3 linked regions of the Homo sapiens genome follow. The protein of the gene in region 2 purifies or fractionates together with the protein of the main gene of each other region. This does not show direct contact. Each region holds a gene or a part of one and is shown on either strand. Other genes may lie near its edges. The genes, in order: TUT7, MKNK2 and CELF1.

What was found.
Region 1: the proteins of MKNK2 (region 2) and TUT7 purify together in Homo sapiens (affinity purification with mass spectrometry; one large-scale study listed by BioGRID and IntAct). This does not show direct contact.
Region 3: the proteins of MKNK2 (region 2) and CELF1 purify together in Homo sapiens (affinity purification with mass spectrometry; one large-scale study listed by BioGRID and IntAct). This does not show direct contact.

Annotation. Positions count from the first base shown.
Region 1 is NC_000009.12:86,344,349-86,347,997, reverse strand, and holds part of TUT7 (terminal uridylyltransferase 7), read left to right. Parts: intron 1-1,517; coding exon 1,518-1,699; intron 1,700-2,212; coding exon 2,213-2,329; intron 2,330-2,843; coding exon 2,844-3,021; intron 3,022-3,649. UniProt on the Homo sapiens protein: Uridylyltransferase that mediates the terminal uridylation of mRNAs with short (less than 25 nucleotides) poly(A) tails, hence facilitating global mRNA decay. Essential for both oocyte maturation and fertility.
Region 2 is NC_000019.10:2,044,635-2,048,283, forward strand, and holds part of MKNK2 (MAP kinase-interacting serine/threonine-protein kinase 2), read right to left. Parts: intron 2,058-3,649; coding exon 1,970-2,057; intron 1,835-1,969; coding exon 1,733-1,834; intron 1,650-1,732; coding exon 1,552-1,649; intron 1-1,551. UniProt on the Homo sapiens protein: Serine/threonine-protein kinase that phosphorylates SFPQ/PSF, HNRNPA1 and EIF4E. May play a role in the response to environmental stress and cytokines.
Region 3 is NC_000011.10:47,473,130-47,476,778, reverse strand, and holds part of CELF1 (CUGBP Elav-like family member 1), read left to right. Parts: intron 1-1,257; coding exon 1,258-1,443; intron 1,444-3,547; coding exon 3,548-3,649. UniProt on the Homo sapiens protein: RNA-binding protein implicated in the regulation of several post-transcriptional events. Involved in pre-mRNA alternative splicing, mRNA translation and stability.

The sequences.
Region 1 (3,649 bases), on a different chromosome or scaffold from region 2:
CTGTAATAAACACTGAAGTTAGATGCAGTTTTTTTGATAATGTTTATAATGATAAGCAAACTAAATGAGAATGGATACATCTCTAAGTAAAAGAAGTGCTTATCTGAAAAAAAAAAATTGTTCAGACCAGAAATACTGGCCTTAAAAGATTATGATAATTTAATTGGGAGTCGGGGGAGTATTAAAAAGGAAATATTAAGGTAGCGCAAGGTAGCCTGATTTTCTGTTGAAATGACAACTTACCTTTTAGTATTTTATTTGTTCAGTGTATTTTGATTGATTTTTTAAAACTACTTTTCCAACACTTTAATTTTTTTTAATTTTTTAATTTTCTTATATTGTGGAAGGTGTTTGCAGAATTTTGAGATAGTCATCTCAGGTAGTTTTAGCACAATGCTTGCTGCTTATCCTTTAGCGCTCTCAGCAAGCTTTTTATAAAATTGGAGGTCCTATATTTCCTTTTCAGCCTGCCAGTTCATTGTAATTGCCATACTAGTAGTAATGAGTTCCTCTGAAAACTTGATGGAGGAATTACTTCATGTAGGGCTTTTCAGTAGGTTTATGTTTCCAAGCACTAATGTGTTACTAATAGTTTCATTTTTTAAAACTCGATATAAGTTATCAAAGCTATCTAAAACAATTTTTTATGGTTTAATCCCACAATCACTTTAACAAGTTGAAAAGTTATAAGTTTTAAAAAGGAACAGGATGATTTTTATTCATTATAAGGATTATAGAACTAATAGCAGAGTTTATAAACAAATGTACTTAGAGAAAACTTTTGTTTCAATGGCCAGTTGTTTTTTTCCTTTGAAATATGCTCAGTGTACAGGCCATTCAAAGAAGCTAAAATGAAGGTAAAGGTAAAATGAGAGATAGTTGTCCTTAGTAAATAAAATTTTGGCTTGGACTTCTTCATATTAACGGAGGGACCCGGCTTAGGTGTTATTGATGGCTAAATTTGCAACTAAATGATGATTTTTCACTCCAGATGAGTATATAGTTGATTTCTGAGTTGTCCAGGGGTACATTTTGCATTTTGCCTTATTGAGATTGTTCACTTATAGAAGATGAAAGCAAATGTGGCTGGTTTTAATGAGAATAACAGGTGTACTTACAGATATTATAGAATATGTAAGATATATTTACAATATGTATTGTAATATTTTAATATAATAGAATTATAGATATACTTGCCTTCAGAGTATAATTTTTCTGTTGCTTTGCTATGCTCAGCAGTATACCAGGAAGAGATAATAAAAATCAAATTGTATGATTGAAGTAGAATTCTTTTAAATTTTCCAAAAAGATGATTTCTATGGCTTAATGTCTACAGGTGATGTGCTCACTGAATACAGTATTAAAGCATTTTGTCCATAGGACAGCTACCTTTCCTTCTGCTCTGCATGCAGATGTGATTTATTCTCTCACATGATTTAATACATATGTAAGGTCTGCTTTTTACTCAGGAGTGGCATTATTTAATATTGCCAATAATATTTTTCCCCCACCTTAAGAAAACAAGAAGCAGAGGTCCAGACCTAGGAAGCCACGGAAGACTAGAAATGAGGAAAATGAGCAGGATGGAGACTTGGAAGGCCCTGTGATCGATGAGTCTGTACTTTCAACGAAGGAGCTGCTAGGCTTACAGCAGGCTGAGGAGAGACTGAAGAGAGACTGCATTGACAGGCTAAAAAGGGTAACATCCTTATATATATATTTGTTGGTTAGAATCCTGGTTTTAGCCTCAATTTTGTTGTTAATTGAGTATGCATGCTCTGATCAATTAGATATCCTACTTTGGTTATCAGTATTTAAGCACTACAAGTTAAAAGTGATGTCCAGTGTGATTTAATAGGATTAGGAGTCATTGCTATTATACTTAAAATGACTGTTAGGGTAGTGATAAAGGGAACAATAACAGTAGCAATTTTAAAAGTGAAGAAGAAGCCAGGCACAGTGGCATGCCTGTAGCCCCAGTTACTTGTGAGGTTGAGGCAGGAGGATTGCTTGAACTCAGGAGTTTGGGGCTGTAGTATGCTATAATGGTATCTGTGAATAGCCAGTTCACTCCAGCCAGGGCAACATAGTGAGACTCCTGTCTCTTTAGAGAAAAGAAATTGAAGGGGAAATCATTTCCTGGCTGATTTTGTTTATCTGAATGTTTGGTTTTACTTATGTCTCTCTCTAAATAAATCTCTTCAAATTATAGCGACCACGAAACTACCCTACAGCAAAGTACACCTGCAGACTCTGTGATGTTTTAATTGAATCCATTGCATTTGCCCATAAGCATATCAAGGAAAAGAGGCACAAGAAAAACATTAAGGTAAATTGAATGTAACCCAAACAAGTCTGCTTACTTGTTAGTTGTTATTACTTGTCATCTTTGTGGCTTTCTTCTCCTTAAGGCTATGATATTGATAACTTTACTGCTTTATTTATTGAATATATTTGAGCCAAAATACATAATACTGGTCAGATGTATTTTACTGGTTAATCTTGTGAATTTCCTTAAGGGCAGCATCAGGTTATATGAAGTCATTGATAGGACCCAGGTATATGTCCTTATACTAGTATTAAAGCAAACAATGTTTGTAAGTGCTGTTTTTAATATTCTTTCCTTACACTTTCTCCTTATGCCCACCTATCCTCTGTTACCACTGATCCACATTATGTGCATAAGGAAGTATGTATATGTTTGATAGGATGAAAACTAACACAGCTAAAATGAGAAGGGAGGGCTAAGAAAAAGAAAACTCTATAGGGTGTTGTCTTCATGAGTGGTAGAAGGTCAAAACTATGTGTAAGTCATTTTTAATCTCAACATTTGATCTTAAAAGGAGAAGCAAGAGGAAGAGTTGCTCACTACGTTACCCCCACCAACACCCTCCCAGATAAATGCAGTTGGCATTGCCATTGACAAAGTGGTACAGGAATTTGGCTTACACAATGAGAACTTGGAACAGAGGCTGGAAATTAAACGTATCATGGAAAATGTGTTCCAACACAAGTTACCAGGTATTTTCTAGATTTGTTTTTCTATTTAACTACCTAAAAGTACCTCATTCATTTCTCCTACCAATAGTAATTTTCATCAAATAAAAATTTATTTACCATGTCATGAAGCTCTTGTGTTTTCTATTTTTTTGTTTTTTGTTTTCCCTGGCTTTCCCTAAGGTAACAAGGACTTTCATATGCATTGTCATTATAAACCTGTTTCCATTATAAATTTTACCCTGTGTGTGAACTTTAAGTTGAATGCCCTGCATTATTGGGGCACTGTGGGACTCTTGTGTATGTATGTTTCCCTTTCCGCTCATCTAAATTGACACCATATTTTGAGTTAAAATCAAGAGAAGTATCCTGAAGTTATTTTCAGGTTATTCATGTCAAAAAAAAAAAAAAAGATTTTATTTAACTGTACTTAAGAGAATTGCAGCATCTAAAATGAACTTTGAAAACTAGTTTTAAGAAATTTGTATTGGATTTTGTGCACTGTTGAATTGATTTTCCAAGTTATGTCTGTCTTCTGCCTGTTTTTAACTTTAGACCTTTGGCATGATGGGGAGGGGGCACAACTATTTGGAGTGTATTACTATGAAAATTTAAGGTCAGGTATGTTCAATGCCTGACACAACTGCTGTCA
Region 2 (3,649 bases):
CTGGCTCCTGCCTCTGCAGTCCCATGTCTATACTGACAGACAACACTGTCCCAGCGAGGGGCAAGAGAACAACTGGACGCCAGGGTGTCCTGAAATACCACCACCCAGGCCGCTGCTGAAAGCTGTGCCCAGCAGGCACTGCAGATGGTTCTGGACAAAACTGAACCTCGTCCTGTCCCTTGGGTGGCTGGCTAGAATGCTGCTTCAGGGAGGGGGCGCAGCCCCTCCTGGCATGGAAGGGGCCTATTCTGAGGTCCCAGCATGGGGGCTCTGCATCCAGCCAGCAGCCTCACGGCACCAGGTGACCCCAGGGTGGCTTCCCGCAGCATGACCCCGAGGGCAGAGGGCCCACACCCCAGTCCCCATAGAACGAAACAACGCTCCTCAGACCCACAGGCCCAGCGATTCGCCTCTCTGACTCGCCCAGGACACCTCCTCCTCCCACTGCCACCTGGCCAGACCAACTCCCGGACGTCAGTGGCCAACAACACCTCCAGCAGGAAGTCCCCCAGGCTCTGCAGATCCCAACACTGACCACACCAGGTCAATGTGGCAAGATGACCAGGGAGGTGGCTCTGAGACACCAGTTAGGATCCCCCAGAGGCCACACAGCATGAGTCAGGCTACCTAACCCCCTGAGCCTCAGTGTCCCTATCTGTCAAACAAAGACAGGAAGCAAGGCTGGGCCACCAGGAGAGGGCTGTGCTCAGAGGAACGCCTGCTGTGTGGAAGTGCTTCCGGAGGGGCCTAGTGCTCCTGCACCATTGCCTTGGCCTGCCTGGGGGCTCCCAGGAGGCAGGGACCGTCCGTACTGTGTCTGTCCCTGCCTGCTGCCACTGTGGTCCCAGCACCTAGCCAGTAACCTCCCCAGGTTGGCCACCCCTCTTCTTCCTCCTTCTCCTCAGAGGAAAGCTCTAGCCTGGCCGTCCACCAGGACCCACAGGCTCCTGGCGAGCCCTGCTCGCCAGGGCACACCTGGCCCTCTTTCCCAGGCAGCCAGCCCTCCTGGGACCCCACCCAGCCCGGGAGCCGGATGCCAGGTCACGAGGGAAGCCTGGAAGATTTCTTGGAACACGGGATCCAACCGGCCCACAAGGTCACAGGGTCACAACCAGAGCCTCAACAGGGCTCCTGCTCCCAGCCCTTCGGCCACACCCTGGGTCCAGCAGCCGCCCAGGGCTAGAGTGACACAGGGGGCTCTCACGGGCCTGCACTGAGGTTCCCCAAACGCAGAGCCCCTCTGGGCCCTGGGATATGACATTGCATTTTGATCCTTGAAACCAAACTGTCATGTACCCTCAGGGACAGCTCAGAGGCAGGGACGGCCCAGGGGACCCAATGGGCACAGTGCCTCTGTCTGAAGCCCCCACCCTGGTACCAGAGGGGCCACCCTCACTGTCATTCCCGACTGGACTCAGGGCCCGGTGGCCACTTTTAGACACGGGTCTTCCCGGCTGTAGGACGGACAGCCGGAATGCCACACACTGTTTCCACCCCCGCTCAACACCGATCCCAAGGCGCTGGGTTCCCCAGGGCGCGGCGCGGGCCCACCTTGACGGCGTACTCCTGGCTGGTGATCAGGTTGATGCAGGTCTGCACTCGGGCATGAGCGCCCTCCCCCAGCACATCTTCCTGCAGCTGGTAGACGTCTGCCGGGCAGCGGGGCGGGCGTGAGAGGGACCCTGGCTTTTCCCCGCTCCCGGCTCCCCCAATGCCCGCCATCCCCGCTCACCTTCAAACCTGCCCGAGAAGCTGTCGGTGGCCCGGCCGCGCTTCTTCTTCTTGCCCCTCTTCTTGGCGTCCGGGATGTCAATGGGCTGGCTGGCGGGCATGTCTGTTCCAGGAGGCACGCCCAGGGGGCTCAGGACATGGCCCTGGCCGGCCGGCCCCCACCCCCCTGCAGGGGCTGGCCACTGCCATGGCAGCGACAGCAGCTGCCCTGTGCCCTCCTCCCCCTCGGGCCCCTCACCAGGGCGGGCTGAGCACTGCAGGCCAAAGTCAGAGTCTCCGTGGTCGGGCTGGTCTAGGGAGAAGGCCAGCTCGAAGGGGTTCTGCCCCTGCAGGGGAGAGGAGAGGAGAGGCACTCAGGCCCCATCCCTGCCCACGCAGCAGGGAGACCTATCCTGCCCCAGTGTCGCAGCGTCCACACTGACAAGCCCTGCGCTGAGCATTACGGAAAAATCAACTCCGTCCCCGCTCACACACCAGGATCAACTCCCACCAGGATCAACTCCCGAAGGGGCAGACAGCATAAACCAGGGGACCCCCAAGCTCCTGGGATTCACCTCCTCGCTGCCCCACACTCAGTGTGTGTGTGGATTTCTCTCTTTTTTAAATTTATGTTTTGTAGAGATAAAGTCTTGCTACGTTGCCCAGGCTGGTCTTAAACCCCTGGCCTCAAGCGATCCTCCTGCCTTGGCCTCCCAAAGTGCTGGGATCACAGGTGTGGGCCACATGTGGAAGGCGTGAGGCCTCCTAGCACCTCAGCAAGGCAAGATCAGGGGACGCAGAGTCTCTTAGGGGGTCCATGGAATTTGCCAACCCAGGGGGTGATTCTGTCCCCCAGGAGACACTGGGCCATGTCTGGGGACATCTGTGGTTGTGACCGGTTGGGGGAGCTCCTGGCACGGAGTGGGGTGGGGCAGGGGTGCTGCTCAGCACCCTGCAGTGCCCAGGACAGCCCCACCCCAGAGAAAGATGGGCCCCAACCTCCACAGGGCCGTGGGGAAGACCTCCTCCCACCTGCAGAGCCCTGGGGGCCTCTGGGAAAGGGGTGCATTGCGGGGAGGGGACAGACACAAGCAGCTGGCTCTTGGGAACCCTGCCTCTGATGCCAGGATTGAGTCACCGTGGGGCCCAAGCCGTGTCTTGCACCTCCGTCTGCTTGTCCACAGAATGGGGACGGCTGACCTCTGGGGCGGGTCGCGGGGATCAAAGGCAGCGGGGCAGTGGGAAGGAGGTGAGTCACTAGGCGGGCTGCCAGCCTGGTGGCTGTGCCTGCTTTCCCACGGCCTCCTGGGCCATCTCAGGGCAGCTGAGTCCTCCCTGGGCCTCAGTTTCCCCCATCTAAGATGGCACACAACCACCTCTCCTTCCCCTAAGCTGCTCCCCTCCCTTTCGCTCAGTGCCTGGGGCTGGCGGGGTAAGAATTCAGTGCCTGGTGCTCTGGGGCCTGCTGAAGGTGGGGGCTCTGCTTCCATCACCCCTGCCTTCTGCCCCTACCCAAGCCCAGACACCTGCATTCCTCCGCCCATGTCCCGCAGCTGCCCGGCACACCTTTCCCCTGCCAGCTCTGTGCACCTACGCCCCCGCCACCCACCAGAGGCTCATCTGCTTCCAGCCCCCCAACCCCGCAGCTACCAGTTACCGAGTCAGTATACACAGTGCTGTACTGGTCCTGGGGGCTCACGGGAGAGGCACCCACAGGCGCGAGTGTGCCAGGCCCTGCCCAGACCACATCCTGCACTCTCCCATTTCAGTGCCAGACACCCCTGGAGGGAGCCCCTGGTGGGCCCTGATACCCGGCTAAGGAAGCCGCCTTGGGCCCTGGGGGCCAGGATTCAAATCCAGGCCTGTTGCACTGGGCAGGCTGGGGCTGGGTCATTTCTTGACCCAGCCCCAGGACCATGGGAGCAAGACCCTGACCAGG
Region 3 (3,649 bases), on a different chromosome or scaffold from region 2:
GGGCACCACTGGAATGATTGCAGTGGCCCAGTGAAGTTAAAAATAATCATGAGGGCCAGGTGTGGTGGCTCACACCTCTAATCCCAGCACTTTGGGAGGTCAAGGTGGGCGAATCACGAGGTCAGGAGATCGAGACCATTCTGGCTAACACGGTGAAACCCCGTCTCCCCTAAAAATACAAAAAAATTAGCTGGGCCTGGTGGCGGGCGCCTGTAGTCCTAGCTACTTGGGAGGCTGAGGCAGGAGAATGGCATGAACCGGGGAGGCAGAAGTTGCAGTGAGCCAAGATTGCGCCACTGCACTCCAGCCTGGGTGACAGAGCGAGAGTCCGTCTCAAAAAAGCATGGGATTTTTAAATCAGACCTGAGTTAAATCCCACCTGTGTCCGTTAGCTAGCTATAACTTCGGACCACCTTTCTAAGGACATTTTCTCATCTTTGAAGTGGGAATAATAGAATACTTTGAAGGATTGTTAAAAATTAAATGAGGCCAGGTACAGTGGCTCATACCTATAGTCCCAGCAGTTTGGGAGGCCAAAGCAGGGGATCACCCTAGGTCACAAGTTCCAGACCAGCCTGAGCAACATAGTGAGAACTCCATCTCTACAAAAATTATCTGGGTGTAGTGGTGCATGCCTGTAGTCCCAGCTACTTGGGAGGCTGAGGCCGGGAGGATTGCTTGAGCCTGGGAGCTTGAGGCTGCAGTGAGCTATGATTGTACCACTGAACTCCAACCTAGGTGACAGAGTGAGACTCTGTCTCCAAAAAAAAAAAAAAAAATTAGAACATAGGTAAAGTGCTGCTGAGCACATTGCATAGTACAGTAGATGACACATAGAATGTACTTAGTACCTGTTAGTTGCTGTTTTAATGGTAGGGTTCACCCACATCTTGTCAGAAATCACATGTACCCCTTTGAGTTTGCAGTCTTGGGCCTCTTCTTTTATGACATTCTAGCTCATTATGAGAAAGTGGCAGAATAGCCAGATAGAAAATGGAGGCTCTCATTCCACAGATTGGATGAAGGTAATGGGGAGCACAACACCCGCGTATGGCATTTCTTAATGTCCCCATTAGCAAGGCCTGGTGAATGTCCTGAAATCTAGCCAGTCAGATAGTTTCTTCTCAGGGAGAAACTAAGAGGGAGATAAAGGGGAGAACTTTGGAGTTTTCCCTCTTCTAGATGTCCCAAGTAGACTTGTCTTTGGCATCAGTTTAGTCTTTCTAGTATATTAATCCTTCTCTTCCTCCAACCAAGGAATGGCTGCTTTAAATGGTGGCCTGGGCAGCAGTGGCCTTTCCAATGGCACCGGGAGCACCATGGAGGCCCTCACTCAGGCCTACTCGGGTATCCAGCAATATGCTGCTGCTGCGCTCCCCACTCTGTACAACCAGAATCTTCTGACACAGCAGAGTATTGGTGCTGCTGGAAGCCAGAAGGAAGGTGAGTGCAAAGGGAGATCGGGGTCAGGTATGGGGGGCGGTTTTCCTCCTATACCAGAACGGAAAGGCAGAGCAAAGGCTGAGGGAACCAGTTAGGTCGTCAGACCATTGTTTTTCTTTGACAGTGTCAAGTGTAGACTGAGAAACCCTGTGAAGTGTGATCTGCTTTTTAAATGTTTTCTGGATGTGGCTCAAATCAGAACCTCTGTGTGCCCTCTTGGGATGGGGCTGCAGTTTTTAGATGAAGCAACAGACACTGACCTTATCGGGTCTGACACATTTGACAAGAATGTTTCTGTTAGGAGGTCTTCTCTACAGATTACAAATCTATCAGAGGATCTTCTGTCTGGATGTCTTCTGTTTCAGTGTCCCTTTTAGCTATATCATTTGGCATTTTCCTCACTTTCTGATTGATGTTTGTCCTGATTGAAGACAAACTGAGGGGTGATGGGACAGAGTTTGGCCCATGAGTTGATGGAGTGGGAAGTATGTCGTTTGACACAAATGGTATTCAATTTAGGAGAAAAATAGGAGAGACTCTTTAGCCAGAAAGAGGCCTGAAGGTGACTTACATGAATAGAAGGTCCTGCTGACACCTCTGTGCTCAGATTTGACTGGGTTTTTATAACCAGGAGCTGGTATAAGCACTAATGTAGGAAAAAGATGAGTGTCCTCTTGTCACAGCAGAAAGTCCTGGTTCATCTCTCCTCACCTGCTGTGAATCACTTATATCCCCTAGGGATGTGGTAGTAGGAGAATGTAGCGTGAACCAATATTTTAGTGGAGACTGTGGAGACAGACAATAAATAAATGAAAGCATGAGGTGTTTCAGATGATCCTCTGGAGAATGACAAGCCGGGAAGAGAGATAGGGAGTGTCAGAGGCACTGCATTTTATGCAGAATGCTCAGAGAATGTCTCTCTAGATTGACATTTAAGCAGAGAACTGAAGGAAGTAGGAAGCAAGTCATGCCTGAATCTAGAGAAAGAAGAGTAACAGGGGCATAGGAAAAGCAAGTACAGAGGCCCTGAGGCAGCAATGTTCCCTGATGTGTTTGAAAAAAACAGGGAGGCCAGGGTGGCTGGAGAATGGCTGGACTGCAATTGTAATAAAGCTTTTTGGTTAGAAAATCATTGAGTAGGCTGGGCGCAGTGGCTCGCGCCTGTAATCCCAGCACTTTGAGAGGCCAAGGCAGGCAGATCATGAGATCAGGAGTTCGAGACCAGCCTGACCAACATGGTGAAACCCCATCGCTACTAAAAATACGCCAGGCATGGTGGCGCCTGCCTGTAATCCCAGCTACTCGGGAGGCTGAGGCAGGAGAATTGCTTGAACCCGGGAGGCGGAGGTTGCAGTGACCTGAGTTCACGCCACTGCACTCCAACCTGGGCAACAGAGTGAGCCTCTATCTCAAAAAAAAAGAAAGAAAAAAAAAGAAAATCATTGAGTGTAAATAGTCAGATGAAGAATGTATATTCTGTTTTTAAGCTCAGTGTTAATCATGGGTGCATTTTTAAAACTAATTTCTTATTTTCCCATTTACATATGATGAAACTCACTGATTTTGGCATACAGCTATATGAGTATTGACAAACAGTCCTAGTCCTGCAACCATCACCACAGATTAGGAACATTTCCATCACCCCTAGAAATTCCCTCGTGCCCCTTTGTAGTCATTCCCTGCATCTGGCAACTACCAATCTGTTTGCTGTCCCTGTGGTTTCTAGGCATTATTTGGAAACCTGTTTTGTTTATAACCCCTTTTCACCTCCTCTTCTGTGTTCCTCTCTGAGCCTACAGTCTCTGTTTTCCTGCTCCACACACAAGTCGGCCTGCTTTATTATCCCAACACTCCTCCTCCTGCGGGTAGAATTTCTCACATCCTCAATGAGATGGAGCTTGGCTGAATGTGAGGGAAGGAATCTGTTTTAATGTTTGCCTTTGGTTCCTTGCTTTGTATTTAGAGAATCTGTTTAGTTCCCCAGATGAATCTCTGTTTTTAGGGATTGTGACAGTTTTAACATAGGTGGAAATGAAAGATCACTGGTGCAGGGCGACGAGCATGTTTGACACTGATACTTTTCCAATTCCTGGGTATTTTGAAGGTCCAGAGGGAGCCAACCTGTTCATCTACCACCTGCCCCAGGAGTTTGGTGATCAGGACCTGCTGCAGATGTTTATGCCCTTTGGGAATGTCGTGTCTGCCA